Homo sapiens: one gene and its partner. The protein of the gene in region 1 interacts with the protein of each later gene in a pairwise test. Each region holds a gene or a part of one and is shown on either strand. Other genes may lie near its edges.

The links. Proteins that work in one complex are often made in the same cells at the same time.
Region 2: the proteins of DERL2 (region 1) and SFT2D1 interact in binary tests that used the Homo sapiens proteins (3 or more experiments, as listed by UniProt).

The regions. Positions count from the first base shown.
Region 1 is NC_000017.11:5,484,119-5,487,871, forward strand, and holds the start of DERL2 (derlin-2), read right to left. Parts: upstream 2,044-3,753; coding exon 1,951-2,043; coding exon of another isoform or gene 1,745-1,950; intron 1,099-1,744; coding exon 1,033-1,098; intron 1-1,032.
Region 2 is NC_000006.12:166,328,820-166,332,572, forward strand, and holds part of SFT2D1 (vesicle transport protein SFT2A), read right to left. Parts: intron 2,589-3,753; exon of another isoform or gene 2,566-2,588; intron 1,429-2,565; coding exon 1,342-1,428; intron 771-1,341; coding exon 688-770; intron 1-687. UniProt on the Homo sapiens protein: May be involved in fusion of retrograde transport vesicles derived from an endocytic compartment with the Golgi complex.

The DNA of each region.
Region 1 (3,753 bases):
TATAAAGTGAATGAAACACATTTGAGACAGACAGAACAGCATGTGTAGAGGCACAGTTATTGGCTTTTGGGTCTCTCCCCTACTCCAACTATGGTAAGATCATCCTGGAACAGAAAAATCCATCTCTCTTTTAGCATTTTATTTTGAGACAGGGTTTCGCTCTTGTCTCCCAGGCTGGAGTGCAATGGCACAATCTCGGCTCACTGCAACCTCCGCCTCCCGGGTTCAAGTGATTCTCCTGCCTCAGCCTCGCCAGTAGCTAGGATTACAGGCATGTGCCATCACGCCTGGCTAATTTTTGTATTTTTAGTAAGAGACAGGGCTTTACCATGTTGGCCAGGCTGGTCTTGAACTCCTGACCTCAGGTGATCTGCCTGCCTCAGCCTCCCAAAGTGCTGGGATTACAGGCGTGAGCCACTGTGCCCAGCCTCTTTTGGCATTTTAATCACTGGAAAGGACCATCTCCCATTGTAATCTAATAAACCACCATATAGCTTTAGATGTTTGGAATTTGGTTAGTATGATCTGATCCCTGGAAGACAGATCACAATTTAAAAGCACTAACAGAATTGAGTTTCTGGACCATGGTGATAACACCAAGGTGGTGGGTGTGCCTAGGTGCTGAATGGACAAAATAAGGCCATCCCTGTGAGACAACCCCTAAGCAGCTAGCTAGTCAGCCTCCTCTCATAGGACAACGTTAAGTCTAAACCAGTGATTTCCAAATACAGGAACTGGACACATCAAAACGATGCAGGGAACTTTAAAAATAAAACACAGATTTTAATTCCTACCCTTGCAAATTCTGATTTGGTACTTGTTGAGGAGCTTGAGAATCTCTTCAAAGTTCCCTAAGGGATTCTCAAGTCCAACCAGGCTGCAGAATCACTGCTTTATATCCTGACAAGGCAACTTATAATCAAAGGTCCCCACTGGGTTCTTTTTTAGGATAGTGTATAACAGGATTTGCTACTAAACAGTAAGAAAAAGAAGAAACTGAAGCATTAATCACTATTGTGATGAACCACTTACTTGAAAGTGTTTAAAGATTAATTCAGGATTGAAGTACAACTGAAAAGGTGTGATCAATTCCAACTGCTGAAATAGAAAAAGAGCTTCTTAAAGCAAATCAAGAAACAAAATTTCATCATTTACAACAAAGAATTAGTAGGTCTAGCAATTTCCAACTCTCGGTCACTTAGACGTGATTTCCTTTAAGCCTTTCTTCTTAGGCCAGAGGAAGAGGTTGGTAAAGAATTCTCTAGGATTGGTAGAATTCTTTGTATCCTCAATACCTAACACAAAAAAGTCTGTTTTATGTTGCAATAGTTGAGGCTGACATGAAGAAATGAGGCAGACAGGTGGTGATATTTTAGACACAGGACAAATAAAAACAGCTGCTATGAATCTACCCACCACATGGGCACCACCTGAAACAGCTGTATGAAACAACAAAACTCACTTGAAATAACGGAGACTGGAGACCCTGCCACCGTTAGGGCTGGGTACCTCCAGCTAGCCCCTTATTTAGATCCAGAGACCCTTTTTATTATAAGCCATTCCCCTCTCGACAGTTTCCAGCTTGCTTTCCCCATTCCTGTTTCTTCACTAAACGGACCTTCCTCTCACTAGTCACCATGGTACCACCTGGCCATTGGCAGAGCTCTCGGACACATTTCTTGGGTGGGAGGCTCCCGCAACCCTAACCCGCTATAGGTCCGGCGCTCATCTCTTAGAAACTGACCTGACCCCCCATGAAGCAGCACTCCCTTCTCGCGTCACTGGATAAGCATTCTTGGCGCCAACTCGAACCCCAGAGTAATCCCTGTACGCCTCCACCCATCCCCGGGACCAGCCCCTCTGGGCCTCCCCGAGGCCCAAACCCCAGTTTCCTGAAGACCCAGTCATATCCAGCCCAGATAATGAGAAGGTGGCACTGCAGCTGCTCACCACGGCGGCGGTGGTGAGGACGCAGGCAGTGGTGTAGGCGCGGCTGACCGGTGGGATCTGCAGGTACTCCAGCCGCAAGCTCTGGTACGCCATCTTCCCCACCGTCGCCTGCCCCACCCCCCACCCACCCCATTTCCCCTTCCGCCAGCAGGCCCCGGCGGCGGGGCGGGCCCAAAGGCCCCCCGCCCACTTTAGTTTTCCCGCGACTGCCCAATCAACGCCAAGCAACCGCAATCCGTAGAGACCTAAGGAACGCACATCCGCCAATCACGAGTTGCGTCGCCACCGCCCCCCCCCAGCGCCCCATCTCCCCACCCTCTCTTCTCCACCAGCCAACGTCCGGGAAAAACGAGTAAGTACAGGTTCCTTCTGCCAATCCCCGCCGGCCACAGCTAACTTTCCCGCCCGGCCCCTTTCTGTCATAATTGAGGTGTCCACAACCAGCCAATCAGGAACGCGAGAGTATCCCGCGTTTGCTTTCGCTCGCCGAGGCGCGTATCAGTCGGAATTTTGGGGAGCCAACCGCGCCGTCTGTCCCTGGCAAGCCAGCGGCGGTTTAAAGGAGGTGGCGGGAAGCCTGTGTGTGCTTCAAATCGTCACCCTCATGGTCGCTCCGGTAAGTGCTGCGGGGCAGCATTTTCTCTGAGGAGGAGCGGGGACGGGCGAGACTGGCATAAGCGTCTTCGCGAGGGAGCAAGGCGGCCTGTGGGTCGGCCTCACCCCGGCCTCCGACCTGAAGATCCCAGCATGCAGCGCGGGCGCGGGGCCCGACGGAAGCCGGGAGCCGGCCGGAAGCAGTTCCTGCGCTCTGGCTTCTGGGTCCTGTCCTGCGCGATCGCGGGGTCTTAGACAGCTCAACTCGCCGAGATGACCTGGGCACCTCTGCGTTGAATCGGCAAATACTGATCAAGCCGCATTTATTCTGCTCTCAGGAACTCTAAGTCTAGCAGAGAAGATGAGGCGGTAGAAGTTCATCAGTCAGTGCCCGAAGAGAGGTCCTAATGGGAATTCGAAGAAAGGAGTTAATCAAGGAAGTGTATTTTTTTGTTGTTGTTTGAGATGGCGCCCACCTGTAATCCCAGCTACTTGGGAGGCTGAGCTAAGAGGATCACTTGAACTTAGGAGGCAGAGGTTGTAGCGAGCCGAGATCATACCACTGTACTCCAGCCTGGGCGAAAGAGTGACACTTTGTCTCAAACAACAACAACAACAAGAAAATTAGCCAGGCATGGTGGCCTGCACCTGTTGTCCCGGCTACTTGGGAGACTGAGGTGGGAGGATTGCTTGGGCGCGGGAGGTTGAGGCTGCAGTGATCTGTGATCGTGCCACTGCATTCCAGCCTGGGCGACAGAGCGACAACATGTCTCAAAAGAAAAAAAGAAAAACAGAAAGAAATCCTACCTTACATATACAGCCAAACAGTTATAACCACTCCATATTTAACCATTACAAACGTAAATTTTTATTTTATTTTATTTTTTGAGACAGAGTCTCGCTCTGTTGCCCAGGCTGGGGTGCAGTGGCACAATCTCGGCTCACCGCAACCTTCGCCTCTCGGGTTCCAGTGATTCTCCTGCCTCAGCCTCCCGAGTAGCTGGGATTGCAAGTATCCACCATCACGCCTGGGTAATTTTTGTATTTCTAGGAGAGATAGGGTTTCGCCATGTTGGCCAGGCTGGTCTCGAACTCCTGACCTCAGGTGATTCGTCCATCCGGCCTCCTAAAGTGCTGAGATTACAGGCATGAGCTATCGTGCTCAGCCTACAAACATAAATTCTTAAGATTGGCTGCATCTTATCTTCC
Region 2 (3,753 bases), on another chromosome or scaffold:
GTTACTGCAGCATAAAAAGGGCTAAGACAAACAACAACCCAAAGATGCGACAAAGATTCTCAAAGAGGGATTCTCATACTCCCAATATAAAGTAGCCCTCTGTCACTACTGCCACACCCTGTTTTAATTCTCTGCACAGCACCAATGCCATCCCATCTTTTTCTGGCTTATCATGTGAACATCTTCTTCATTAAAATGTAAGCTCCACAAGAACAAAGCCTAGAGTGCAGCAGCTCCAAGCCTGGGCTCCGGATTCCCACCTCAGCCATGGTGGGATCCCACCTCCGGATTCCCACTGCCTGCAGGATTCCCACCTCAGCCATGATTTAGGTTCATCGCCATGGGCAGCACTGACTCCCCTGCTCTGTGCTATTATCTCCAGTTATAAACGGGGATGATAATACTGCCTACCTCACAAGCTCGTCATAATACATACAAAACACTTAGAACAGTCCCAGACACACATTAAGTGCCCCACAAAGGCTGGCTATTCCTAGCACTAATACCGTCTGTTATGGGAGACGGCATACAGCAGCAGTCAATACATATTTATTTAATGAATGTAAATCCTGTGGCTGAATTCACAGTATGTACAGAACTACATAAACATCCTACTGGGAAAGTGCTTATTAGAAAGGTAAATTTGGTAGCAAGAGCAAACAAGATATTTTGAGAAGCCAAACGTACCTGGCTAACGCAGCAAGATTGCCGAGGGTATAAAACACTGCAAAAAGCTTTATGCCGCCCGGAAGCCACAGCAATCCAGTTCCCTAAGTTAAGATATTATAGTTATTTTAAAATAATTTTATGATTTTAATGGTTAAAATATAAACGTGCTACTGCAGTAATACAATACCAATATTATGTAATATGTTTAAATACAAATCTGCTTGTAGACAGTCTAGTCTGATTACACAGAAAAAATAGTTAATTTTCAATGTTATACACTAACTTGAATCTTCTTCCTATTTGCACTAGCATATATAAATGAGCCATAACAAAACTTTGTGCTTACCAGTAAATCTCAGTCTATTTAAGTTAAATTTTCATGCTAAATACCAAGTATGAAAAGGTAATAAACATCTAAATTACTGACTCTCCAGATCTTTTAACACATTGATACATTTTTCTTAAATTATTTCAACTATCCACAAAACTCCCCAAAATACTAATTTCTACGTATTTTCATTGATCTCTACCCCTTTATTTTAGTTTAATAAATACCTTCCACCAAAATGGTCTAACAGGGATTTAGTAAAGGACATTAGTTTTTGGTACTAAATGGAATTATTAGTCTAATACAAAATAAAAATTATTAAACAATATAAAGCCTTAACTCACAAGAATAGAAAAGAAAACGCCACATACGAAGCAGATGGCAAACCATTTCAATCTGGTGTTGAAACTAAGGGATGAGGCATCCAGGACCTTAATAAAAAATGGGAAAATTTAGAATATAGTCTTAATTCACTACCAATCTGATTCTTTATACTAAATTAAAGCAAAGTTTTAACACATAGTCTGAATCATTTATTTTGCATATCACAGTGTCATTCAAGAATACTAAGATTCCACGGTTGTTAAGGGTAATATGACCATGGTCTGGGTAGCAGATGATGCTGAGGAATAACCATTAATTTTGCAAAGTCTGATAATATGTTTCACAAAAGTCCTTATCTGTTAGGGACAGCCGATATACACTGATATGGATAAAATGACATATAAGATATATTATAAAATATACAAAGATTAAAAAAACACAGGGGGCAGATGCAACAGGCCAGGCAAAACACTGAAACTGCAGAGGCTGGGAAAGAGTACACAGGTTCATTATCTGTTCTCTCTGCCTCTGCAGGACGAATTCCTCAGGCTCCTAGATGCCAGAGTCTGAGTGCATCCGAGTGCATCCGCACTCAGTGCAAGTCCTGCTGGAGGCAGAGGCTGGCCTTCCACACGCCACCTCCCTTCGGCCGGTCATTGGCTGCAGGCCAGGGGTGGGGTGGGGTGACTGCACCCCATGGAGGGTAGAGGACGCTGGCCACCTACAGGAGGCAGCCTGAGCAGCCCCAGCAGAGACGATCACAGCACGCACCAGACGGTACCCGTTCTAAGCTCTTTCAGTCCAACCCATGAAAGTTTTGGGCCCCTCCTCCACCACTGTAAAAACATACTGTGAAATGATCATTTATTCTAGAGCAACAGCATTCCTATATACCATGCAAATTCTAGCCAAATTATGTGGGGAAAAAAGTAGAAATTACTAAGTCTACTTTGTACAGTATGATAACCCAGCACACAGTAGTGGTGAAATAAACACACTCAGATTACTAATTATACTATTAAAATATATTTTCCAAATAAGGCTAAAAAAGTATCTATCAACAGCAGCTGTGCAAGAAACTAGAAATATACAGCAAGGATTTATATTCCAAAACTTAAATTTCTAATTTATACTACCACATCCACTTAAAAATAAGACTACATGCTTATATTTTCAAGAATAATGAAAAATAAGAGAAAGTTCTATATGCAACAGTTCAAAATACATTTGGTTACATTCCTTACCTCAAGAGATTAATCTGTGAATCCTTATGTAGCATGAAAAGCAGATAAAAATAACTAAGTATTCTGTAATGAAACATATATCACTCTTTAACACATTTTAAATGTTTTTTAAGTTTTAATTCACATTCTTGTTTCCAGCAATGTCATCTGTTTATGGCAAAACTAAACACTTGGTTTTAAACAAAGAGTGAAATTGCCTATAAAAACATCTACATTTCATTCTTACTGATCAGGAAGAATATACACTAAGTATATTTTAACTACGCAGGCCAGAATAAACTGCAAAGACTGAATTACATAGTAAATGATCTGTTAAAAAAAATGGAGACACGCCCATCAGCTTCATTTAACCATCCCACAAAGTATACATAGGTCAAAACATCACGCTGTACACAATAAATGTATATAACTTTTATTTGTCAATTAAAAATGGAAAGAATAATGATTTCTAAAGGTTCGTGTGAGTCCACAATGCTGTGAGGATTTAGTGAGAGGAAAAAGCATCCATTTTTCCTTCTTTTCCAAGTTCAAATCACCCCATTGTTCACAAGTTCAATCGCTGCTTTTCAATAGCCAGTTTTTCTCTCAGCAAGGAAACAGCACGGCTATTTGTATAATAGTAGGTATTTTTTCCTCCTATTGCCATCTTCCGTGTATTGATCTTTAAAACGAAACAGCAGGACAAATTATTTCCACTTGTAAACATGGAATATTCAATCCACAAGCAAATGATTTGTCTCAAGTCTTGCAAATTGTCTAGGATACGAAACAACTATACAGATTTCCTGACTCCTAATTGGGAAAACTGTGATATGCTTCAACATGAAAGAAAACCTGGCAGTGCATCTTCCAACTAGGAGACAGAAGGAACCCTGACGTCTGCTTATCACAAGCATTTTTTTGAGACAGAGTCTCACTCTGTTGCTCAGGCGCCATCTCAGCTCAATGCAACCTCCGCCTCCCAGGTTCAAGTGATTCTCCTACCTCAGTCTCCCAATTAGCTGGGACTACAGGTCCACGCCACCAGGCCTGACTAATTTTTTGTATTTTTAGTAGAAACGGGGTTTCACTATGTTGGCCAGGCTGGTCTCAAACTCCTGACCTCAAGTGATCACCCGCCTCGGTCTCCCAAAGTGCTGGATTACAGGCATGAGCCACGAGCCACTGCACCCAGCCTGCTTATCATAA